Homo sapiens: one gene and its partners. The protein of the gene in region 6 purifies or fractionates together with the protein of the main gene of each other region. This does not show direct contact. Each region holds a gene or a part of one and is shown on either strand. Other genes may lie near its edges. The genes, in order: PFDN1, CETN3, FGF8, VBP1, PDCL3, DCAF12L2 and CUL4B.

Region 1 (3,500 bases), on a different chromosome or scaffold from region 6:
TCAACTTTTTCCATTTTACATCAGGCACATTATTTACCACTGATGAGGGTGGAAATATGGAGAAGTTTTAAAAATTAACACTGAAACTGTTTTATGACTTTATGTTCACAATTCTTGCTTCAGGGAAAGGAAGAACAAACTTTTATAGCCCCAAGTAAGTGAACTGAAATATTTCCCCTCCACTGGAACCAAGGGAAGACCCCAGTTATGCAAATCTCTTTCAGGACTGTCTAAGGAAGCTAAAATATATTTCAATTTAATATTGCAATTAATTAAGCAAGATTTTTCTTCTCTTTGCACTAACAGAGTTCAGCAACAAAGAACTAAACATCATCTCTTAACAAAAAGTCAAACGAGAAAACACATCAAGGTAGCAACATGCAGTTTCCTCTGCCAACCCCACAAAAACATCATTGTGCCTAGGTGGGTTCTTATCAAGAGAGTCCGTTATTATAGATATAAGACAAGTAAAAACAGACCAAAAAGGGCAATTAGCTATGCCCCAACACCTGGAAGGAAACTGCCTTGTCCCCTCTTCTTCATAACTAAGCCTTACCACACATATTAATAAAATCTGAAGAACTTCTTTTACTCCACTAATTATTAAGCTTATATCCTAATGCGGCCAGCCCAGATAATTTTTTTTTTTGAGACGGAGTCTCGCTCTGTTGCCCAGGCTGGAGTGCAGTGGCATGATCTTGGCTCACTGCAAGCTCCACCTCCCGGGTTCATGCCATTCTCCTGCCTCAGCCTCCCGAGTAGCTGGGACTACAGGCGCCCACCACCACGCCTGGCTAATTTTTTCTATTTTTTAGTAGAGACAGGGTTTCACCATGTTAGCCAGGATGGTCTCGATTTCCTGACCTCGTGATCTGCCCGCCTCGGCCTCCCAAAGTGCTGGGATTACAGGCATGAGCCACCACGCCCAGCCCAGCCCAACTGATGATCTTAGTCTTCAGTAGTAACTTGATTCTTTGTAAAACCTTACTGTATATTTACAGGAAAGAGAGCCCACATTCATGCAAAACAAGGATTAATTCCAGGTCTTTTACTATAGAACCCTTCATGTCTAAAATATTCTTACTGGATCCAAGAGATGGGTGCTATTTCAGATAAGATTATGGTTTACAGAATATTTTTCTCAGAACTAACTCATATTTGTATTTGAAGAGAAGAGTTGTTTTGAACAGTACTAAGTCTCAGTAATGTTATGTAAAAACTATTCTAAAACAAGGTGCAAGAGTCACCAAATTATGTCATGACATGTGTGATTTTACTGAGAAAGTCTTTTAGCCATGGAAATAATTTTTTGAGTAAAATATACATTTTTAAGTAGCACTGATAGCTGGCCAATGAGTACTATTCTCAAATAAAAGGTCATCAGACATCATCTTTATTAGTGTCTGGGAAAATTTCAAAGCTAAGATTAGAGGTCAAGTCATTACTTATGTGGCCTTTAAAAATAAAGTATCTGAACAGATACTAAATCTCTTGAGCAGAAAATAAAATTACTAGAAAGCAAGAACACTCAACAACAAAAACACGTTTTTCCATGACCACATATCCTTTGAGGTAGCTATACTGGACTGTGCCAACTTCAAAGGCCAGAGAGATTCCACCGAAGCTGGCCAACTTACTACTACAAACCTAAGGACATCTCAGCCACGCAAGTTTTAACAAGGATGAATGTTGGGTAAATGCAAATGTCTACCTCAAAGAGTAGTTACACAGTAAAAATTCAAACACAAAAACTTATGGAAAGTTTGGTTTAGTCCTCAATTTAAAAAATGGCAAAGATATATTGTATGAAGACTGGAAAAGGCTCCAAGAAACATCTGATTTCTGAAAAAAAGTCTTTGGAAAACATCTTTCTTATTGTTTAAAAGGGCATTGGATTATCAGATACTATGTGAAGAGAAAGGATTTATCATGATAATATAAGTCTTATCATAAGCAAATATTATGTACACAGTTGCTCAATGTAGAGAATCTCATAGTCATTCTGCCTGATTGTTTATGGAAAGCCAAATAGTAAATAAAGAATTCTGGAGTTCAAAATGTACCAATAAGGAAAAATAAACCATGAAGAGGGAAAGTATTCTCTCATGACAAATAATATGCAGATAACATGCTTAAAATACTCAGGATTATATAACCTGAATTCGAGTTGATGCTTTGCAAAAGGCCTCTTCTTTGACCTGGAAATCAGTGCCACGTGCCTCTGCACTGTCCACTCTCAAGGACTTGTAACCTGCTATTTCACTTCCTCATTTATTTGTAATTATGCCATCTGAAAACATAATTCTGAGACTTTCGGTTTTGATTATTTGAGAAACATCAGACTCCGTTTTCTAAATCATCCTGCAGTTTGGTACAACTTCCACTTTCTTATAACTCAGTATGAATCAAAACCATTGTTCACCTGCCCAAAACACAATCCCAGATCACTTGCACTGCTGCATTTTGGACACAATTTCCAAAGTATGGTCACCTAGACATATGCTATTCAGAAACAACAAAATGCTTATGACGAGTTCACTTTGGGTGGGAAATTTTTAGAGGGTGTCTAAAAACGTATCCTATTAGCATTTAGGTTTCAGGGTATTCACAAATTAAGCAGCATAGAAAAGACATAAGAATGAGCCTATCTTCAGGAGAATGGCGTGAACCCGGGAGGTGGAGTTTGCAGTGAGCCGAGATCGCGCCACTGCACTCCAGCCTGGGCAACAGAGCGAGACTCCATCTCAAAAAAAAAAAAAAAAGAATGAGCCTATCTTGCTTCTTTGCCTAACTCCACTGGTGAGGAAAGTTACTGAATTTTTACGTCGTAATTTTTAGCGTGGAAGCAAGTAGAAATAAATTGAACTTCTTTTTTTAAAATTTTTTTAAATTGAATTTATTTCTTACTTTAATCACTTCCTTAGTAAGGAAGTGATTAAAACTTTATGGCACATCCACATTGTGGACTGCTCAGTGAGTTACAGACTTCTGTTATTGGCATAATGAAGAGTAGATACCCTGAACACTCCTGATTAGAAACAAAGGAAAAAAAAATTTTTTTTTAACATTTTGTTGAACTAACACAAAAGGAAGGATTCCACAAAGGTCCAAAGTGAAGTGAAACTGGGAATTCAGGAATGTAAGACAGCAGTAAATTGGCTTTCATCCTGAGAGTTTATGCTGAATCCTGGAGACCTTAAGTATCCACACTGGCACAGAAATAGGATACAAAACAGGAGATAAAACCAAGGGGGCAGCCAGGCATAATGGCATGCACCTGTAGTCCTAGCTACTCAGAAAGCTGAGGTGTGAGGATTGCTTAAATCCAAGAGTTCAAGTCCAGCCCAGGCAACATAGCAATGCCCCATGTCTAAAAAATAAATAAATTTTTTTAAAAAAGAATGACTAATTAAATAAAAAACCAAACCGAAATTTAAAAAAAAATATTTTTTTTATTGACATGTAAAGATGTCAATATAGTAAGTTAGTAAGTAAGTAAA
Region 2 (3,500 bases), on a different chromosome or scaffold from region 6:
GTCTTGGGTATTTCTTCGTAGCAATACAAGAATGACTTAATATACACTTGCTTCCTAGATAACTGTTTGAAATGTCACTACTGCTATAGTATTCCCTACTGATTTTGTGTTAAATTTCTAGTGGACAACCCTTAATGTAATACTCTTAAAAGGCTCACAACATTTAAAGCGCCTCAAATGATACTACACTTTAAACTTAAAAATTTAAAACAAGAATTCTAAAGAAAGATTGCTGAAATAGACAACTCAATTCCGTTCCTGGGAGAGCCCATAACACCGAGTACTAGATATGAGTGAAGGATCCATATAGGTACTATTTTTTTCTATGATCGATCTCCATAACCACTTGTTTCCCCCTAACATACACTTCTACAAGGCAGAAGAGCCCACCAGTACTTGGAAACTGTGTCTCTACTATTTCCTGGTGAATCACAGACTGTTCCTTCATATAGGTAAAACATAGACTTAAATTATTTCTGTGGCTTACAGTTTTCTATTTTCATCACTGTGACATGTAATTGAGTGATAATTACCTTAACAAATCAAAATTCCAAAATTTAAATCTCTCAGTCAAGAAGTTAGAAAATTCAAATTGTATTCATTCAATTTGTTTAAGGAAATATTCAGAAGAAAATTAACTTTCATACTTACAATGATACCAAGTTAAGAAACATAATACACAAGGATAAATGGGTCTATCTGCACAATACTTATTCCTTCTAAACTCAAAGACAGGACTCTTAAAAAAGGAATTAGGCTTATATTGAGTCAGCTTGTATTAAAATATAGAATGTCAAAATTGATGAAATGTTAGGTAATGGAAAAATGTGCCACTCTATTGCTAATTGTATTTCAATTTTTGTTTCAGAAACTAGTAAAATTATAAAGGGAAGATTTAAGAAATCCACTCTTGAGGGTTAACAGATACTAGGAATAAAAACAAATTTACCAAACTTTAAAATTCTAATAAAATAAATATTTTATTAACGAAAGTCTGGAAAATGTGTGCACTAAAAAGTGACTATAAATGTTAAATTAAAAAACCTTCAAAGAACACATATCACACATTCAATTTTTAAAACTTTATATAAAAGCTCTATTATAAATACAAAGCTAAACTATCTGAGTACTAACAACACAGTTCATACAAAGAAACTTAACAGTAGTAAAATACAGATATATAAGATGCTTATTTTTGGTCCTTTAGGATAAAAGAACTAAGTTGGTTTTTTTCACATGGCTCCAGGCACAAAAATAGAATATAAGATGGTAACTGCAACATTCTTAGTGTTTATCCTTGTAATTCTTTAAATGTCACCAGTCATAATAGCAATGAACTCCTCTTGGTTTACTGTGGTAAGAAAGAAAATGAAATAGTCAGAAATATAAACATTTTATTTTTTCAGAATCCACGACTACCATTTTACACTAAGTATTTAAAAAATTTTACATTATGCAAAATTATTACATTAAGACATGGCTTTTTGCTTTTACTTCTTTGTTAGGAAGTGGAACATGTTTATTAAATGTAACTTCTTGGATGCAAAAATACATATAATGTGATAAACATTACAAATTAGTATTCTATAATATTAACTGGGGAAAAGATAATGTTACCAAAAAAGTCAATCACAGTCATATTTGTACATACTTGCTAAAACATTTTAAATGCTTGACATTTCAAGGTTCTTTAAACAACCCTCTTTATAATCTTTATTCTACTAGTTCATTTAGCAAATCCTTCCTTTACAAGTAAGCTTGAACATATCATGCATGTAAATTAGATTTCTAAAGAATGAAAATATAATAAAATTATAAAAAGAAGTTAAATTATTATTTTTTGAACTTTTATATACTTAAAAGCCTATGTTAAAGAATAATTAAAACCAGGTCACCATACCTCAAAGGTATCAATAAAAATGGCAATTTGAAAAGATTACAGATGTAATCTTAATCACCAAAGTAATCCAGTAACTATATAGATGTAAAGGCAGAAAATAATCATGGATAAGGACTAATTTTTAGTTTGCCAAAATTATAAATATAGTAAGAATCTCCAATTTATAAAACATAATGTTTAAGACAGCAACCTAGAAATAAGAAATCAGATAATCTTATAGAATATAATTTTGAAAACCCGACATATGCGCACGTATCAATTAAGAAAAATGTTCAGAAGATACTTCTGGTAAGTATTTAGCATTTAGCCCTAAGACTTAATACATACCTAAACAATGCATAAATTATGAATGATAATTTTGATAATGCCAAAAGAAAACTACACTGAGACTTAAGACCTGGTCTCTAGTCACAGCTCTGCACAGAACAGCTCTGCATCTCATTTCCTTCATCTGAAAACACTGAACTATGAGATGATGTTTTAGATTGTTTAACTCTTATTTACCATAGAAGGTATTATATGAAAATACTCCATTGAATCAAACATTTTTAAGTGGCTAGTGAATGCCAACACCACAATAAGTGTTGCGTAATATATCAAAACAGACACCAGGCTTCCTATTCTGGAATACATTAAAACCGAAATGAGAAAGATATTATATGATATTATAAAATTATTGTTAACTTTCTTAAGTGTAACATTGGTATCATAGCTTTATGAAAGATATATCCTTGTTCTTAGTAGATGGATATGCTAAAATATTAAAGGATCAAGTTTTTGTTTTATTATTAAAATTTAATTAATTAATTAATTAATTTAGAGACCGGGTTATGAGACTGGCTAATCGTTGTATTTTTGGTAGAGATTAGGTTTCACCATGTTGCCAAGGCTGGTCTTGAACTCCTGGGCTCAAGCAATCCACCTGCCTCAGCCTCCCAAAGTGCTGGGATTACAGGCATGGGCCATGGTGCCTGGCCTAAAGACTGAGTTCTTGATATATGAAATTTATTTTCAAATGATTGAGAAAAAAATATACACACGACAGGTAAAGCAAATGCGGTAAAATACTAATTACTAAATCTAGGCAGAAGGTACAATGGTGTTCATTGTACTAGTCTGACAATTTTTCTGTTTGAGAATATTCATAATGAACAGTTAGAAAAAATTAACCAATTAAAAAATGTTGAGGAGATAAAACATGGTCATAGGGAATGAAAAGAATATATACTGCACTGGTTCTAGAAACCACATAGAAAACCGGTTTTGATAACTATGTTAGTCAGTTTTTATACTTGAAACAGAACAAATGTTTTATAACACAAAATACTATTTATTATTAAAACAAAGACCAAATCAGTGTTGAAAAAAAATCCTTCACAATGGTAAAAATTATTACTAATAAGAAAAATTTAGGTAAAGGTAAATCATTACTTGGGCTCTAAAATAAAAATACAGAATTTGGAAAGGAAGTAGAAAGAGAGCTGGGGTGGGAGAATACCATCAGAAATACAGTCAAAGAAAGAATAGTGTATGCCTCACAGAAATAAGCTATGAGTTAGGAAAAATGCACCCTCCAGAAGCTGACAGGGAACTATGAAGC
Region 3 (4,144 bases), on a different chromosome or scaffold from region 6:
CTGGAAGAGCCAGGCATTCGTCTCCTCTCCTTAGAAGCTGAGAAGGGCAGCAAGCAGCTAATTTGGAGGGACAAAGGGATGGTAGGCCTGCTCTGCCAGCCCAGTAGGGGAGCTCGGCCACCAGGCAGGCCGCCCCCACCCCCACCCCAGAAAGCCCGCTCTCTCCCATGTCGGTTGAATCTGCTCCGATCTGGGGAGCTGGGGCCGCAGTTTACGGCAGCTCTCCCGACCGGGCTTTTGGAAAGCTTAACATTTTCAAACCTATTCTTCCACCCCAGTGACAGATTTATCCCAGGAAAATTATGTCTCCTCCAGCTTTGAAGGGAAGTCAGCTACGTCGATGCAGAAAAAATGCAGCGAGACATACTCGATCCCCCAAACTGGCTCAAGAAGAGGAGAAAGTATTCAGGAAATGTTAAAAAAGGTGAAAGTAAGAAGAGTTTTAATCGCTCTGCCAGACGCAGGGGTCTCTCCAGAGATTCAGAGAGAACAATCTTGAACCTCTTTTTTAACATTTACAGACTTGCAACTCCTTTCAAACTCCACATCTGAAAAAAAGCTCGTTCTTTTTCTGTTTTATATCATTCTTCATTTTTCTTCTTAGCTCTTAAAATGCCTCACCTTTTTATTACATTTTAATAGAGTCTTCCCCTCTCCTTTCATGCTTGTTTAACGTGGTCATTATTTAAAGGTTTTTAAACTCACAATAATCGCTCTCTAAAAACAACACCAGCCGCCCAGAGGGCTTGCTTTTCTCTTGGTACATCCAGGACTCTGGAAATTGGCCCCGTTTCAAGGCAGGAATATTGAATGTTTTAGAAATCAATCAGTCCTCAGCCTCTCTGCCGGCAGTAGCTCTCCGCACTTGCCACCCCACAGGGAGCCGGGAGCCCTGCCCCAGCCGCCTGGGTTCCCCAGGGAATGGAGCAGGGAGAGCCCCCTTCCAAGCCCAGTTTCCACGTGTAAATTGACCCATCCGATTAAAGTATTTAAGGGTTCCCAGCAACCTCCTTTTCCAACTGGGAGAGTTGAGGGGATTTCTCTCCCTTCTCTTTCCCACTCTCCTTTTGTGGGCCCTGGCGACATATCCTCTTTCAAGCGCTTGCCTTAAACCTAGGCCCCCTCCCCCTGAACCCCCTGCCTCCACCTGCAGCTGGGGAGGAGTGTATGAAGGGGGGAGGTGTAAAGGGAGATTCCTAGATTCATTCATTTGCTGGGCAGGGAAGGGGGCACCTGTGGCCAAGTACTCCCCGAGGCCCCTTCCCTAGCCCTCTCTTCCCCAGCTGACCCTCAAGACACCTTTCTGCCTTAACTCCTTCCCTTCTGAGCTGGGGACCCTGCAGGCCCCCGGCCAGTGCAGTTGGGACTGGTGGTCCAGGCGCCGCGCATCCCACAAGCTACCTTCAGCGCGCCTTACCGAAGGGGTCGCCGTCCTCTGCCATGGCGTTGATGCGCTTGTTGGCCAGGACCTGCACGTGCTTCCCGCTGGTGCGGCTGTAGAGTTGGTAGGTCCGGATGAGGCGGCGGCTGAGCTGATCCGTCACCAGGCTCTGCTCCCTCACATGCTGTGTAAAATTAGGTGAGGACTGAACAGTTACCTTTAGGAAATTGAAAAATACACAATACACCATTATAATGCTACTCCGCCCAGGGGCCCGAGTGGCCCCATCACCCTGCGTCCCCCTCACTGCCCCAAGCCGCCAGCAGGTGCTGGGGGTTCCCCCAACATGCCAGCCCAGGCCACCATCCCCCACCCACGCAAGTCGGGCAGACCCAGCCCAGGATGAACGAGCCCCAGGGAGAAGCTGGACCCACCTGTTGGGAGACACCCTGGGGCTCCCGGCCAGCCCGGAACAGGGAAGCGAGCTCCCTGCCCAGCGCAGGGCCCCTGCCCGGGCCTTCCTAGAGGAGCAGGGCGCTTTTAAGTAGGGAGGCAGCCCTCCCCGACCCCTGACATTTATAAAGACAAATTTACGGAGCAAATGTTGAGAGTGCAGGGAACCTGGGCACCCGATCATTGGGCCAAATCGGCCACAAGCCTCCCCCGAGGGGCGCTGAGAGGGTCTCTGCTGCAGTCACCCGGCTTCCCCTGGCATCGAACATCCATCCCCTGGCCGCGGCTGCCCCCTTCCTCGGCGGCTGGGTGTTCCCTATGCCCCCAGCCGGCGAGGATGCATGGGGGACAGTGCTGGGCTCCGAGACCTTCGTTTCTATCCTGGCCACTCACTCGCTGTGTGACCTCAGGAGGGGTGCTACCTCTCTGTGCCTCAGCTCCCTCCTCGGGGTGGCTCGGGGCTGGGTTTCTAAGGTGCCCTCAGCCCTCCCGCGCCGGCCGCAGAGTCAGTCCCGGTGCCCCCGACCGGCGCTGCCCACCCGGGTCTCACACCGGCGCGCCCGGCCCCCGCCTCCGCGCACCCCTCCTCACCTGGGCTTGGAGGCAGAGGACCAGCAAGTGCAACAGCCTGTGGGAGACAAAAGCGGGCGGGAGAGAGAGGCGCGGGTGAGGCGAGGGGCGCGGGGGGCGGGTGGCGGGGCAGGGCGGCGCGGTACTCACAGGCAGCTCAGCGCGGAGCGGGGGCTGCCCATGGCGCGCGGCCCCGGGGCACCGAGAGCCCGGCGGGTCACGCCGTCCCGCGGGCCGCCGCGGGAGGACGCGCTGAGCAGGGCGCGAGCGGAGAGGGTGCGGGTGCGGGAGGCCGGCGGCGATCACGACGCGGCTCCGCGGGTCCCGTGGAACGTCGTGCTCGCCGCGCCGCACCGAATCGCTGTGCGCCGCTGCCGGAGCCGGTGGCCGCTGGCTGCTCGGGAGCCGGAGCGGGCGGGAGGGTCACGGGCTGGCGGGGTGGGTGGGGAGGTGGGAGGGCGGGGAGGGGTGGGGGCGGGGGGCGCCGCACCGGGCGCGAGGGGGGAGCGCGGGGCGGGCGGCGGGAGCCCGCAGCCCCCGGCTGGGAACTGGGGCCTGGATGCAGCCCGGGGCGGGGGCGGGGCGGCCGGGGAGGGGCGGCCGACGGGTTCGGGATTGAGGGTCTGGGCTAGGGGAGGGGTCTGGGGACCCGCGGGAGGGGCGGGGGCGGCCGGTCTGGGCGCCTCCCCCTATCCCCGGCCTGTCCCCTCGCGCGCTCCCCGGTCCCGGACGCGCGGGGATGGGGGCGCCTAGGGCTGCAAACTCTGCGGGCCGGGAGACCCCGAGCCTGGGCTTCCCCGACCGCCTGGAGCGCCCGAGTCTGGCGGGTCTGGGTCTCCGCCTCCGGGCCCAGCCGCTTCCGCCGCCGGCTACGCAGTGGTCTCCGAGCCACCTACTGTGTGTCCCGCCGGGCCCCTGGGAGCGGCCGCTAACCATGCAGCGAATGGCTGCGCACCCGGCCCTCGCGCAGTGCGTGCCGGTGCCACCCGGACCCCGCTCCCCTGTTTCGGCCGCGTGCCCCGTCCTGTCGGTCTCTCCAGTCTCCTTCACTCTCCCGAGGAGGCCCTGGGAGCCAGAAATGCCTCCCCCTCCCCCCATCCCATTATCACTATCACCCCTTCCCCTGTGCCCCTCACCACACACACACACACACACACACACACACACACACACACTAGCCTGAAGCTTGAGGAGCACCCCGAGCCACCTGTGTGGAAGAGAGAGTCCGGAGGTCCCTGGCAGGACCCACTGTCCCCGTACCTCAGCAGGCAGCAGGGGCAAAAAAACTCTCAGTAGCTTTTACTGGGGGAAGGGACTTCCATCCAGGCCACCCAGCCCTTTCCCCCTCAAAGCCCCACTCGTTTTTCATTTCACAGGTATTTACACACCTACTGTATTCTAGGCAGGGGCTGGTCAGCTGGGCTTGGGGCATAGGAGAAGGTAGGCACTTGTCTAAGCCTTTCCTAGCCCCCCACCTTGTGGCTTCCCCCCTGAGGTTTCTGGAAACCCTGAGCCCCCATGCTGCTTCTGTGGGAGCAGCCTGGGTGGACAGAGATGCTCTGGGACAGGTGCCTTGTGAGGAGCAGGTGATGCCCTACCAGACTGCTGTCTTCACTTACAACCTCCCCTTCCCCAGTGACCCTCCATTCCCCTGGGGGTAGGGCTGGAGGGTTTGGTGTGGTCCCAGGAAGCCATTAGGCCAAAATTAGCGGCAGCCCTAGTCCAGCAGCACAGCCAGGC
Region 4 (3,500 bases), about 29 Mb from region 6:
TGGTAACAGCAGTAAGGAAGTGAGAGATAGTTGGCTTCTCAATCTATTCAGAAGAAGGAACCAGTGGGGTTTGCTGAAGGACTGGTTGAGAGATATAAAATAAAGAAGAGTCAAAGAAGACTCAAAGATTTTTGTTCTGAGCAACCAGGCAAAAGATTCTGCCATTTACTGAGATGGAGAAGATTGTGGGAAGTGCCAGTCTATGAGTGGTGAAATGAGGATTTAAACATTCAAGAGGAATGAAAGAAGAAAAACATGAAAAGAGCAAGAAGAGCTCAGCAAAGAAAATGAAGAGAAAGAGAAACAGAAGAACAGTTACAAAAGACAGAGTAAAAGCAACAAAACAGAATAACTACCAGGGAAAACACAAAGTCATGGGGAAGCAGCCAGAGGAAATCACACAGAATGAAACACATCGAATAACTGAAAACAGAGAACATGATAGGTACTGAAAACAGATAAAGGAGATCGAACATATGCATATTTATTATTCCCAAAAGATAATAAAAGAAATGGGGCAAAAGTCACATTCAAGTACACAACAGAAATTATCTTTCCTGAAATAAAGTAACACTTGAATTTGTGAATCAAAAGGTCATGCAATTTCTACAAAAAAACTGAATACAGAAAATCATTGAATCCTTGGACACTCAGGTGTAGTTGCTATGCTTCAAAGTTATTTTTTAAAAAGCCTTAGTGATAAATTATAAAAGATAAATACTGAAATGCAGATTGTAGAGTGAAATATAAATGTTGTACAAACTTTGAGCAAACCTCCTTGGGCTAATCTAGAGTGCCTCTCCAGAGTGATCCTACAGGACAGCAGCTAGGGGAAATCCTCCCCGTAGGACAGCTGGTAGAAGTACACTTGGCTTGCTACTTTGTATGAGAACTTGCCTGAGGTAACAAGATCCACAGACAGGTAGCTGGATAGTCAGAGGACTGAGAAGAGCAAAATAGGTAAATCACAGATAAGCTCAATGAAATCATCTAAAACTGAAATACATGGTTTTAAAAAATAAACTCTAACCTCAAACTTTTTGCAATACTCTTTTTCCCCTTAAATTGAGAGGGATCTTTCTAGAATTATTAAACTCTTATGGGAAGAAGCGTTTATCTAAAGTTCAGCAGTACCTTCTATTTTACTTCTATTGCTCTTCCTCCATTATATTTAAGAGAGATAAAGCACTAACTGGAAGAGAAGCAGGGTTTGTTTGATCAGTTTTATCTTGATTGGGAGAGACTTCAGTATGTTTTTACTGCGATCTTCATCGCACTTCTGATTCTAGTCAATTTCTAATATGAACCACTTGGACTCTGTCCCTTTGTCCCTTCCACAATCAAAAGGAGATGAACACTTTACATATCTCGAGCAATACTACTAAAATACTAGCAAATACTAGCAAAACCAGTGTGTTTGCTACAGAAAACACACTGGTTTACAAATATATCAGCTGTGGCTATAACATTTACTTACCCCCAACCACAGACACACTTTATCGGTAGGAGGAACTGAAGCTTTGCAATACAGGTTATCTGCCAGCAAGAATCTGGTCTCCATTGAGTTGGTGGACTCCTTCAAAACAAAAAAAAAAATGACAGTACCATAAACAGGCCAGTTTGATACCAAGGTTATAAAGGAGAGATTGCACAGTTGAACCTAGGACATTTAAAACAGTACCATCATGCAGGCTAAGTGTAGTGGTAAAAGAAATGAATGCTAGACCCAGGTGGCTGGGTATGGACTCTGGCTCAGCTACTCACTAGCTGTACAAATCTGGCATCTCACTTAACTTCTATATCTCAGGTTCTTCATCTGTAAAATGAGGATTACAACAGTCCCTACACCTATGAAGTCAGTGGTAAGCACTGAGTATACACAGACACACACACACCCCCGAGTGCCTGACATACAGAGAAGGCATTATTGTAAGAATTAGCCATTCTTCTATTATTTCATTGGTGCTTCATGCCCAATCAATCAGTTGCTGAAGTCTTACAAAGTTCACCACATATTAAAATGTACTAGAAATAGTTATTCTACCAGTCAAGCAAAATCATAAGCATACACACAATCTTTTAAATACAATATGCTTATGAGATTTAATCTTTACAACCTGCTTTTATTTAATGAATACTGGATTAAGACTTAGAAGACTCTCAAATTTAGTTCTGCCAGTAACTAACTACATAGACAATGGTCGAGTATAACCTCTCCATAACCATTTCCTCAACTATGAAATGAGAACCTGTAACAGATGATCTCTAAGATTCGTTCCAGCTCTATAAATCTTGGACTAACTCCTTATTCTTAGGGAGAAAGACAACAACAAAGAAAAAACCCTAGATGCTGCTAGCACAGAATAAGACATTTTCTTTGTACACCTAAAACAATTTCAAATTGCATTTAAGTTTCACAAGCACTAAAGATAAGCAAAGTAATCCAAGTGTGGGCCCTAGAATTAAACTTGACTTTTGGGGGAAGGCCACAAAGCCACATTTGCTACAGAAGCACATCATAACATTAGTGTATGTGCTTAAGAAGGCAGACTGGATTCCACAGCACAGATCAAATATCAGTGACCAAAGAGTCAAAGAAGACGAGTTTCTGCTGACATATCCTAGCTTGCTCATATTTACAAACAAAAATGCACTTACTTTTTTCTTCTGCATGTATTTTAGAATTTCCAAAGTCTGTTTAATTTCAGGAATCTGACCTTTTAGCCTGTGAACAAGAAAAAGAGTAACTTAGTATTTTGCAGGCAAAAATAAACAACAGGACACGGTCTTACTAACTTTGCATTTTCTACTAATGTGTTCTTGAGGACTATTTATAGATATAAAATACTTAAGATATTTTTAGATATGAGATAAAATAAGATATAAATATTTATAAAAATAAAATATTTAAAGAAATATTCACCAAAAGAAAATATATTTAGTAAAATATTCATAAAATATTTAAAGTATAAATACTTAATAAAAATATTTAAGATATACTAGTGAATGTTTATGGAATGCCCATTCCATGAAGACAAAGCTCTGTTCTATTATGTCAAATACCCCATGGCTATTTAACATTTCTAGAGCAGACTATATTCCACAGAGGTGATTCATAGGTTCTGCATTTGATTAGAATGAAATTTTAAATAGATTAATTTTAAAACTAATTTTAAAAATAACATGGATTCAAAAGTTACATTCTAAAATAGAAGACACCAATCCCCTATCCAGTGATGCACATAGCTACTCCTGGTGTGTGCATTGGGTATACACACATGTACATCACAGTCAGCTAAATGCCAGGCAAAGCACAGTGACACCTTCTCAGTATGTGCACTTGTCACACTGTGAAAAATGTACAGAATCATCTGAATGCCAAACACACCACATTATGATACAGTATAATTTAGTGATTCTTTTAAGCTTTGGGTATTTCTTCCTTAACTTTTATGTTGATAAATGCTCTTCTTTTCAAATGAGGTAACGATCGTTCTTAA
Region 5 (3,500 bases), on a different chromosome or scaffold from region 6:
TGGGCTTTTACAAGGATTGCCTTCTAGACGATGTGTGTGTACACGTGTTTGTGACGTAAGATGTTTCTCTCCTTGTTTTGTGCAGACGGCGGAGACTGGCTGAGTGGAAAGCAACTAAACTGAAGAATAAATTCGGAGAAGTTTTGGAGATCTCAGGGAAGGATTATGTTCAAGAAGTTACCAAAGCTGGCGAGGGCTTGTGGGTCATCTTGCACCTTTACAAACAAGGGTGAGCTGATCTTCCACTCCATCTATCAAATGTTAATTTGAATTTATGTCTTCAGGATCTCAGGCGTTACCTATATCAGAGGGTTAAGAAATTTTTTTTTCTGGGCCAGGCGCAGTAGCTCACACCTGTAATCCCAGCACTTTGGGAGGCTGAGGCAGGTGGATCATGAGGTCAGGAGATCAAGACCATCCTGGCTGACACGATGAAACCCCGTCTCTACTAAAAATACAAAAACAAAATTAGCTGGGCGTGGTCGCGGGCGCCTATAGTCCCAGCTACTTGGGAGGCTGAGGTGGGAGAATGGCATGAACCCGGGAGGCGGAGCTTGCAGTGAGCCGAGATTGCGCCACTGCACTCCAGCCTGGGCGACAGAGCGAGACTTTGTCTCAGAAAAAATTTTTCTGGTACTGAGTTTTTTGTGTTTTTTTTGCTGGTTTGCCCAAACCTTATTACTTAATTTTTTTATCTTAAGACTTTCAAGTTAATAATTTGTGACTAATATGAATGCCTTTGTTAAAGTATAGCAATGAAGACTATGCTTTTCTGTTTTTGAAAAGGAATTCCTAAGTTATTTATTCCTTTACAGGAACTCTGACATTTCAACATTCTATGTAATGAATTTATCTCATAGATGGCAAGGTTGGCCTTTACAGTAGTAATTGCCTGAACTGTGTGATACTGAGGGCCTCTGATTTTTCTCAGCTCTCCAGTCTTGTCTTAAACTGTAGAGTCCAGTGCTTATTTAGGAATTTCTTTTTTTTTTTTTTTTTTGTTTGAGACAAAGTCTCACTCCATTGACCAGGCTGGAGTGCAGTGGCATGATCTCGGCTCACTGCAACCTCCGTCTCCCAGGTTCAAGCGATTCTCCTGCCTCTGCTCCTGAGTAGCTGGGATTACAGGCGCCTGCCACCGCACTCAGCTGATTTTTGTATTTTTAGTAGAGACGGGGTTTCACCATCTTGGCCAGGCTGGTCTTGAACTCCTGACCTCATGATCCACTCATCTTGGCCTCCCAAAGTGCTGGGATTACAGGCGTTAGCCGCTGCACCTGGCCAGGAATTTCTTTAAAGCAGAAAACGTTTTCTGACATTTCATACTTTCTAAACCTTCAGCGTTTTCTCATTCAACCTTATAAGAAATGTATAGCAATTTTATCTTTTACATTGAAGCTGTTTTTCTGACTTGTTTTGTCAAATAAATTGGACTTTGGATTTGTGTTCTTCACTTTCCCTCAGCATATTAGGAAGTTTTTAAGAAATGTTAATTCAGCTGGGCATGGTGGCTTACACCTGTAATACCTGTAATCCCAGCACTTTGGGAAGCCATTGCGGCCGGATCTCGAGCTCAAGAGTTCAAGAGCAGCCTGGGCAACGTGGTGAAACCCTGTCTTTACAAAAAAAAAAAAAAAAAATCAGCTGGGCATGGTGGTGTGTGCCTGTAATCACACCTCCCGAGTAGCTGGGATTACAGGCGCCTGCCACTGCACCCAGCTAATTTTTGTATTTTTAGTAGAGATGGGGTTTCACCATCTTGGCCAGGCTGGTCTTGAACTCCTGACCTCATGATCTTGGCCAGGCTGGTCTTGAACTGCTGACCTCATGATCCACTCACCTTGGCCTCCCAAAGTGCTACTTGGGGGGCTGAGGTGGGAGCATTGCTTGTGAGCCGAGATCACACCACTTCACTCCATTTAGCCTGGGTGAAAACAAGACCCTATGTCAAAAAAAACATGTTAATTCATCTTAGCTAGCAGCAGAATTACTTGTGAAACTGTTACAAGGTTTTACTTAGGGTAGAAGGGTCATTGAGCTTTGTTCTGTATAAATGTAGGATCATAATTGCTTCTGTTTTCTATGTGTGTTTTATAGAATTCCCCTCTGTGCCCTGATAAATCAGCACCTCAGTGGACTTGCCAGGAAGTTTCCTGATGTCAAATTTATCAAAGCCATTTCAACAACCTGCATACCCAATTATCCTGATAGGAATCTGCCCACGATATTTGTTTACCTGGAAGGAGATATCAAGGCTCAGTTTATTGGTCCTCTGGTGTTTGGCGGCATGAACCTGACAAGAGATGGTAAGGGCTCTGGGAGACAGGCGGGGCAGTGAGAGATGGGAGGCGCATTTCTGTTGGAGAGAGTGTCTATTTCCTGGACTCCTGTTACGATGGTGGGTCAAGTTCACTTCTGCCTGTGTATGAGGACGGAAGCACGTTTAATCTCTCATCTTAGTTGCGTAATCAGGAACAGTTACAACTGGGCTCTACTGATTCTTAGTTCAAGGAAGGCGTGATAGACTTAAATATAAACATTTTTTATATTGGTGTGGAATATATTTTGTCTCTACAGTTGGATGTTTTTGTAGCTTGAAATCACAACATTCACTTTTGCTTTAATTCACATGAACACAGGGAGACGTTAATGTATGTATTTGTATTTTTCTACAGAAACATTCTCAGTTGAGTATGTTAGTAGCTTTTACATTTATTTACTTAGTTATTTATTTTTTGAGACAGAGTCTTGCTCTGTCACCCAGGCTGGAGTGCAATGGTATGATCTTGCCTCACTGCAACTTCTGCCTCCCAGGTTCAAGTGATTCTCCTGCCTCTGCCTCCCAAGTATCTGGGATTACTGGCACCTACCACCACGCCCAGCTAATTTTTGTATTTTTAGTGGAGACGGGGTTTCACCATGTTGGCCAGGCTGGTCTCAAACTCCTGGCCTCAAGTGATCTACCCACTTCAGCCTCCCAAAGTGCTGGGATTACAGACGTGAGCCACTGCGCCCGGCTAGTAGCTTTTATTTATTTTTTTTGAGACAGAGTTTCACTCTTCTTGCCCAGGCTGGAGTGCAATCACGTGATCTCGGCTCACTGCAACCTCTGCCCCCCAGGTTCAAGTGATTCTCCTGCCTCAGCCTCCCTAGTAGCTGGGATTACAGGCATGTGCCAACATGCCTGGCTAATTTTTTTGTATTTTTAGTAGAGACAGGGTTTCTCCATGTGGTCAGGCTGGTCTCAAACTCCTGACCTCAGGTGATCCACCCGCCTCAGCCTCCCAAAGTGCTGGGATTACAGGCGTGAGCCACTGCGCCTGGCCAGCTTTTAAATTAAATTAAAATTTTATTTAATTCTGCCTGTTAGCTCGGAAGGATGTGGTTTTTGTTTGATTGTTTGTTTTTTTGAGATGGAGTTTTGCTCTTTCGCTCAGGCTGGAGTGCAGTGGTGCGATCTTGGTTCACTGGAACCTCCACCTTCTGGTTTCAAGCAATTC
Region 6 (4,120 bases):
GCCACTTAATTGCTAAGATGATGAACACATTTTATTTATTTTTCTGCAACACATCACATACTGGATCCAGAATTATCCATGTATACAGTAATAAAAAATCAACACCTACTCTGAGCACAACTGCCACAACTGGCTTTTCACTGTAAATAGCTACCTGAATTTAAAGAGATGTGTACCCCATATACCCCCAAAAATACCTCCCTGATTGCACTACCACATATATAGACCAGAATTGAGTAGTTCTGAAAATCTGTAGCATAGAAAAGCAGGCCATAATACAGCGGCTTTAAATAAGAACACGGAGGGCCTGAGGATAGTAAAGTTTTACTGAATAACCAAAAATGTTGATTAATAGTATGAACAACATTGTAAGATTTCTAACTAACAGAACATATTTTTAAAGCATTTTACACATCAACACTATACAAACAACAGACATTGAGTTTCCAACATCCAAATGAATCACGCCCTAGAATGGTGTGTGCCACACTCTAGAATGGTGGCAATCTAGAACCTGAACTGCATTTTGTAATTAGAGTAAGGCTATAAATGATGGGTAGTTCCTCAAAACAACCCCAAAGATGCTTTGTAGCTCACATTTCCCCAAAACACCACACATCTAACATGTGTAAAAGATCTGAACACTATTGCAATATTGATAAAACTAACGTACTGAATAGTAGTGAAGACTATGACTACATCAACCTAAAGAAGGAGGGTATGTGAATCACTGAAAGACAGAACACAATTAAGGTTTAGCCAAAACTCTTTGAATGAGAAGGCAAAAATATACTGCTGTTGGGAAACGTGAATGAGAGTTTTAAAGCCAAAGTTTTGACTGCCGAAAGGACCACTTGTGCTCTCTCGCTCCCGCTCTCTCTCTTTCTTTCTCTGCCTAATACATTAAGCACACGTAAGTTGGACTGGTTCCACCTGGAAGACAAAAGCCACACAAAGTTAAAAGCACAAATGCAGCATGAAGAAGGAAAGTCAGGCGGAACTGAAAGGTAAACCTGTGCACTTTGAGAACAAGGCGTCCATCCTTAACTCCAGAGGCCTGCGTAGTTCCCATGGAGGCCTGAAGGGAGAGGCCCCCCAGCCACAAAGAGCTTCATCTCCGGCCAGTTGTAGCAGTGGGTGTAGAGCGCATTGGGGAACTCTCCCATGCCACCAAAGTAGTTCACCCAGACGTCATCTTGGTTGAGCCAGCCTCTGCCGCAGGCAAGCTTGAGCTTCCTCCCTGCGGGCCCCGGCATGGAGTCCAGGCTGGAAGAGGCCCTCTCCTCCAGGAACTTCTGGGCGCGGATGTCATAGAAGAGCAGGGAACCATGGCCGGTGCCCACAGTGATGATGTGCTGGTAGAAGCTCAGCGACCGCACGCCTGTGCCACCCTCTCGAGAGCACAGGGGCCGGATGTTCTGCTGGCGCTGGCGCGGATCCAGGAAGGAGACGTGGGACTGAGAGCCCACAGCGTACAGGGACAACTCATCACAGTAGGTCAGGCACACATTCTCTCGGCAGTAGGGCAGCCTGATGGACAGGAGCCTGGATAGTGTGCTCCGGGCTTTCCACAGGTGGAAGTAGCCGTCCAAGGACACCGCTCCCAGCTCCTGGTTCTTGCCGCTGAAGGCCAGGGCCCGTACCTTGCGGTTGCTGGGGTTGGTGCTGGCCCTGGGGATGGCCTCCACATCCCTCGGACGGATGTGGGCATATACTGGGAGACCCACCTCGCTGTGCCAGGCAATGCTGCCATTAAACATGTCTGGGTCCATCCGCCACAGAGCCACGGTGCCGTCGCGGGAGCCGCTCACAGCTACGGTGTCACTCAGCCAGGCGACTGCGAAGATCCAGTCCTTGTGGCCATGGCGGTCGCCCAGGCACAGGGGGTCCAGGGTGGGCAGCTGGTAGATGGCCAGGCTGTTGGGGTTTTCGCCGCCGGTGGCCAGAAGCGTCTTGGAGGGATTCAGCTCGATGGCATGGATGCCGCAGCCCTGGTGGGCCTGGGCCAGCCCGGCCTCCTTGTCCCGCATGAGGGGGATGCGCGTGATGTGGCCTGACTGCACGTCCACCACAAACAGCGTATTACACTTGGTGCCGCACACCACCTGCCTGGCGTTCAGCCACTGTGACGCGAACACCTTGTTGAGGGTGCCCAGGTCCAGCTGGCGCTCCGTCAGCAGCTCGGGCAGCCTCTGGACGGCGTAGCCCCGCAGCTCGCCCTCGAAGCCCTGGAGCCCGGCTGGGCCCCGCGCTCCTACCTCCCGGCCCTTCAGATAGTGCACCAGCCTGCGACGCGTCGCCGGCCGCTTCTGCTTCTTGGGTAGCAGAGGCCCCTCTCCGTCCGCCGCCGCTAAACCCTGCGACGACGAGCTCCCGGCTCCCGCCTCGACCGCGGGCGCTTTCCGTTTCCTGCTACCTGTTTGCTGCTGGGCCATGGTGGGCGGCGGGCGATCTGCAGCAGCGGCGGCGGCGGCGGCGGCGGCGGCGGCGGCCCGGCGGCGGTGGCGGCGCGTGGCACCCGTGTTGGCCGTGGCGGCGGTGGTGGGGATGGCTGCGCTTCCGCGTCAGCCGAGAGCTCAGGATCTCTAAGACCAAGAAGCTGGTGCGATCGCGGGCGCCCAGACTTCAGTCTGAGGCTCGGCGGCGGCGGCGGCGGCAGCGGTCGTCCTGGCCAGAGATGCGCGGCCTGACGTAGCAGAGCCGGGGCGAAGCGCGGCGGCAAGGGCGGCAGTGGCGGTGCAGACCTAGGCGAGAGCGGGAAGAGTGTCTGTCTGGATGGCTGCGGGAGCGAAGTCAGTGTGGGGGGAGGACGACGCTGGGGCCCGAGTGTGAAGGGCGGAGGCAGTGGGAGGAGCTGCTGGGCTGGCGTGGGGTGCCTGCCGGGTAGCGGAGGCCGCGCGGGGTGGAGGCTGGAAGGGGGCGGAGGGGAGAAGGGGGTAGCGGAGCTGCAGGGGCAGAGTCGCGGAGGGCCAGCACCCTAGGTCCCCAGTATCAGACATGCGTTGTTTCGCTACCCTCAGGACAACAGCTAACTACCCTTCTTAAAATCCGTACTTCAGTAAAATCTGAAACCTAAGATATAATCAAGCACGGGGCTAGAAGGAGGCCGAGCCACGGTCTGCCTGGAGAAACCAGTGTGCGCTTGGTGTAATCTTGGGACACCCTTCGCTTAGATTATACATTGAATTTGGCAAGGGATCGGGTGCGGGGGTGGGGGGGTGTGGGGTTCAGCAGCGTCAGGGAGACCTCTACCCTCGTGTCAGACCTGCAGCTTCTCCAGTTTCAGCTCCTGGGTTGATGTCTTAAACAGTTTCCACCAAATAATTTTTTTCCCCTTCTCAAACTGAAGTCTTTGAGCACCTGAATCCCTGAGCATTTGAACTGCGTTCCAAATGCAGTTCCCTAGGCCCTGCTTTCCACCCGGGTGGTATCAGGGACCCTTTAGTCAGAAAGCAGCCTCAGGAGCATCCAGGGCTGCAGTGATGATAGGGGTGGAGACATGGGGGTGAGGGGTGAAGAGAAGGGTTTTTCTGTAAGGCATTGAGTTCTTTCGAACTCAGCCCAGGGCGGGTGGAGTGAAGGGGAAGAGGTCCAGGAGAGGGGTACCTCCCTCTCTCTCCTGGGACGGAAAGGTCAGCCCAAACTTTCAGTCATAGGAATCTTGGCAGAGCCCTCTCTTGGTGTGGGGGCCCCCTTGGGCATTGGTACAGTACTCAGAGGAATGCACAGGATTTCCACAGGCACAGATGATAAAGAACTTTGCAAAGTGACTAAATGGCAAAATGGTGAGAGTGTGGATATTCAAAGCATGAGTTTGGCAGTCTGAGAAGTTACATGATCCACACCTGCTCTAAAGCTTTAGGGCAGTCAATCCTAAAGCAAGCCCCCAATTCCACAGTAATACCTTGCACTGAAATGCTGGTGGCTGATACCAGGTCTGCACAGGCCCCAATCGTCCTCCACAAAAAAAGTCTTTGTTAAGCGTGTTTGCAGAAGTCAGGTGGTGAGTTAACTGTCCTTGATCAGAGATCATGAAAATACTTTGTTGCTGTTTCCCCCCAATTCTCCCTGCTCTTTTTACAAACTTATCTCAAACCCAGAAACTCCAAGTGCACCATGG
Region 7 (3,500 bases), 5.6 Mb from region 6:
CTCAAGGTTGTCAAGGAAAGATAATTTTAAAACTCAGGTCCAATTCTAATTTAAAATTACTTTAAAAAGACAATGTTTGCTTACTGCAAGTGTACTTAGAACAGCATGTTCTTTTATAGAAATTAAAAACTTAGTAGGCAGTACATGCAACCCACACTAGGGACTTCCATACTTAAAGCTTTAAAGCAAAATGTTTTTTCATGCAGAAGTAAGTTCTAAGCAGATATATGCCAGTAAGTGTTTACCTCAGAGAAAGAGGGTGGGACAGGGGTTTGGAGAACTTTTGTATAACTACATATTTCCACATTATTTCAATTTTAGAAGAGTACTTTTTCTTATGTTTTTATTTCCCACTCAGGTAGATTGAGAGAGTACTTCTAATTACGTTTCAATGAGTCAAAATCAAACAAGCACCTGAAGTCCAGATTATATGAAATAGCTTTACCTCCTTTATCCTCCTGTTTGAACTTGAACATCTCAAAATAATCTTTCTGAGAACAATCCAAAGGAACATTTATAAAATTAAGGTCAAAAACAGTAAAAGAGCTAAAAACCAATGCTTTTGAATTCATTATAGCAAAAGCAGTAAGGTATTATGAAAAATGCAAACAGTGAAGTTATAAGACTTGTGACTAGGCTAAAGAAATGCAACTGAACAACAGCAGGTAAAACTTACGAAGTACAAGAAAACAAAAACAAGAGATGCAAGCTCTATGCTCTTGAAAGAAAAAGATTTAACAGAATCAATGTATCAGGAAAAGTATTTTCAAATCAAAAGCTCTGGAAAAATATTCAAGGTAAAGTAAATAGGGTTAATTAATAACCACAATAAACATTTGTTACAAATATGGAATATATAAAATATTATTGAAATTAAATATGCTGTATACCAGCATATCCAAATAAACACCATATACTATCCAAATAAACACCACTTATGCATGCACAGATAAAAATACTACTAAAATTATAAAGAGCTTTTTCCCTAAAGTAAAACAATTTAATTGTTTCAAACACTGCACTACAGTGGTATTCAAAGTACCAGGGTATATTAGTGAGGTGGTACAGGAGTAAAAGTGCAATGAACTAGAAATCCAGCATCTCAGTTTGAGTTGCCCCTGCTCTGCCAATATGTGACTCTGGGCAGGTTATTCAACTTCTCTGAGACTCAGTCTCCTCATCAATAAAGTGGGGATAGGCCAGGCGCGGTGGCTCACACCTGTAATCCCAGCACCTTGGGAGGTGGAGGCGGGTGGATCACTTGAGGTCAGGAGTTCGAGATCAGCCCGGCCAACATGGTGAAACCCTGTCTCTACTAAAAATACAAAAACTAGCAGGGCGTGGTGGCAGGCGCCTGTAATTCCACCTACTTGGGAAGCTGAGGCAAGAGGATCACTTGAGCCCGGGAGGTGGAGGTTGCAGTGAGCCGAGATCACGCCACTGCACTCCAGCCTGAGTGACATAGCAAGACTCCATCTCAAAAAAAAAAAAAAAAAAAAGTGGGGATAGTAACTACTACCCTACGTACCCCAGAAAGGGTTTCCATAATGCTTATATGAGATAATACGAGATGAATCCCCTTTGCAGGCTGTCATGGACACCACAAAGAAAAAATATTGGACCACATGCTCTCTTAAGGCCTTTCCAAGTCAGTTTCATATTTTGGCTTTTATTGTTGTACATTTTAAGAGACGCATATATAATACGCCAAAAGAGCCATATGAAATGGGCTTATTCTTAAGTAATAGCTTAGTACTACAACTACTAGCCGACATTTGCATAGCATTATAATGCTTATAATGTTACACGGCATTATTACTATGTGTTGTGCACTGATTTGAGTATTTTGCGTGTACTAATTTTCACAGCAACAGAAACTGGTGATCTCAATTGTCATACTACAAGTGAAGAAGCTATAATGTGGCTTGTAAAAAAGTTTGACTCGTGATACCATCTTATATTTGTAAGATTATAGTGCCTGGAGGCGTTTTCCACAAATATCTTATTTGATTCTTATCAGCAACCTTGTGAGACAGGTAGGGCAAACTATTATTTCCTCTACTTTAGAGAGGAGGAAATTTAAATTGAGAGTGACGGCTGGGTTTGGTAGCTCATGCCTGTAATCTCAGCACCTTGGGAGGTTGAGGTGACAAGACTGCTGTAGCCCTGGAGTTCAAGACCAGCCTGGGCAACATAGCAAGACCCCTATCTCTTAAAAAAACAGGAAAAAAAACTGAGAGGGCTTTAGTACCTGGCCCAAGATTATGAGGGTAACAGCAGTCAAAACTAGATCCCAAACCCATCTTCTGACTCCTAATCCAGGTTTACCCATCACCATACTAGCTCTGCAACTAAAATATACAAATACTGATAAATAAAACCAACATAATTTCTTACAAGGTACTCATCAATACAAAAATTCAAGCTATTGTACTCTGAAGTATATATATATTTTTTTTTTTTTTTGAGATGGAGTTTCACTCTTGTTGCCCAGGCTGGAGTGCAATGGTGCAATCTCGGCTCACCGCAACCTCTACCTCCTGGGTTCAAGCGATTCTCCTGCCTCAGCCTCCTGAGTAGCTGGGATTACAGGCATGCACCACATTGCCTGGCTAATTTTGTATTTTTAGTAGAGACGGGGTTTCTCCATGTTGGTCAGGCTGGTCTCGAACTCCTGACCTCAGGTGATCTGCCAGCCTTGGCCTCCCAAAGTGCTGGGATTACAGGTGTGAGCCACCGTGCCCGGCCTGAAGTATCTTTTAACACCAAATCCCTGACACTCTAATGAAAGTAACTTCTTGAATTGGTTGTGTGTCAAATACACAGTAGGGAAAAATTTCTTGGTAGCAAGGGATTGCCCTTAGGAACTGCCCTTAAAATTATATTTAAGTGTAAGGACCCATTTGCTAAGTAAAGAATCTGAACCTCAGACTAAGCTGCTGGACTACAAACTGCTACTCATTTCTGGGCTAAGGTGCGTCTTGTAGCCCAGGTATTAGAAAAATGTAAAGAGCAAGAAAAAGAAATGGCAAAGTCTACTATTAAGAAGGAGGTAGAATAAAGGATATGAATAATATCTGCATGTCTTGAGGCCTTTCCTATGGGTAGGTAACACAACTAAGAAACAATTATCACAATAGAATGACATGTCACCAGAAATCATCTTTGGGATTCATGCTATAGGATTACATTATAGGTAGAACTTCTATTACACCAAGGTACACGTAACTGTAATTTCTTATCAGGAGGGTCAAATATAAGCACAACTTATACTGGTATGACTGTACCCATGGTTTATGTGAGAATACGTGGTCTAATTATAGAGTTCATCAATTAATGGAGAAACTAAAATTAGAAGGGAACCAAAAGTCTACTTAAGAACCTATTTCAGAAAGCAAAATCCATATACATCCCACCTCAATTTATGTTAATCAAATCTGGTTATGCATATTAATACATACCTGGTAGAGTTCTTCTAAATTGTACTTAATTGAAGTACT

Evidence for each region.
Region 1: the proteins of DCAF12L2 (region 6) and PFDN1 purify together in Homo sapiens (co-immunoprecipitation; one large-scale study listed by IntAct). This does not show direct contact.
Region 2: the proteins of DCAF12L2 (region 6) and CETN3 purify together in Homo sapiens (co-immunoprecipitation; 3 studies listed by BioGRID and IntAct, with this or other methods). This does not show direct contact.
Region 3: the proteins of DCAF12L2 (region 6) and FGF8 purify together in Homo sapiens (co-immunoprecipitation; one large-scale study listed by IntAct). This does not show direct contact.
Region 4: the proteins of DCAF12L2 (region 6) and VBP1 purify together in Homo sapiens (co-immunoprecipitation; one large-scale study listed by IntAct). This does not show direct contact.
Region 5: the proteins of DCAF12L2 (region 6) and PDCL3 purify together in Homo sapiens (co-immunoprecipitation; one large-scale study listed by IntAct). This does not show direct contact.
Region 7: the proteins of DCAF12L2 (region 6) and CUL4B purify together in Homo sapiens (affinity purification with mass spectrometry; one large-scale study listed by BioGRID and IntAct). This does not show direct contact.

What each region holds. Positions count from the first base shown.
Region 1 is NC_000005.10:140,282,602-140,286,101, forward strand, and holds part of PFDN1 (prefoldin subunit 1), read right to left. Parts: intron 1-3,500. UniProt on the Homo sapiens protein: Binds specifically to cytosolic chaperonin (c-CPN) and transfers target proteins to it. Binds to nascent polypeptide chain and promotes folding in an environment in which there are many competing pathways for nonnative proteins.
Region 2 is NC_000005.10:90,392,757-90,396,256, forward strand, and holds part of CETN3 (centrin-3), read right to left. Parts: intron 1,352-3,500; coding exon 1,308-1,351; 3' UTR 1-1,307. UniProt on the Homo sapiens protein: Plays a fundamental role in microtubule-organizing center structure and function. As a component of the TREX-2 complex, involved in the export of mRNAs to the cytoplasm through the nuclear pores.
Region 3 is NC_000010.11:101,773,315-101,777,458, forward strand, and holds the start of FGF8 (fibroblast growth factor 8 isoform F precursor), read right to left. Parts: upstream 2,801-4,144; 5' UTR 2,587-2,800; coding exon 2,555-2,586; intron 2,463-2,554; coding exon 2,426-2,462; intron 1,903-2,425; coding exon 1,816-1,902; intron 1,599-1,815; coding exon 1,418-1,598; intron 1-1,417. UniProt on the Homo sapiens protein: Plays an important role in the regulation of embryonic development, cell proliferation, cell differentiation and cell migration. Required for normal brain, eye, ear and limb development during embryogenesis.
Region 4 is NC_000023.11:155,226,460-155,229,959, reverse strand, and holds part of VBP1 (prefoldin subunit 3), read right to left. Parts: intron 2,726-3,500; coding exon 2,659-2,725; intron 1,577-2,658; coding exon 1,478-1,576; intron 1-1,477. UniProt on the Homo sapiens protein: Binds specifically to cytosolic chaperonin (c-CPN) and transfers target proteins to it. Binds to nascent polypeptide chain and promotes folding in an environment in which there are many competing pathways for nonnative proteins.
Region 5 is NC_000002.12:100,569,493-100,572,992, forward strand, and holds part of PDCL3 (phosducin-like protein 3), read left to right. Parts: intron 1-85; coding exon 86-229; intron 230-2,097; coding exon 2,098-2,306; intron 2,307-3,500. UniProt on the Homo sapiens protein: Acts as a chaperone for the angiogenic VEGF receptor KDR/VEGFR2, increasing its abundance by inhibiting its ubiquitination and degradation.
Region 6 is NC_000023.11:126,163,490-126,167,609, forward strand, and holds DCAF12L2 (DDB1- and CUL4-associated factor 12-like protein 2), read right to left. Parts: upstream 2,801-4,120; 5' UTR 2,436-2,800; coding exon 1,044-2,435; 3' UTR 10-1,043; downstream 1-9.
Region 7 is NC_000023.11:120,554,463-120,557,962, forward strand, and holds part of CUL4B (cullin-4B), read right to left. Parts: coding exon 3,462-3,500; intron 1-3,461.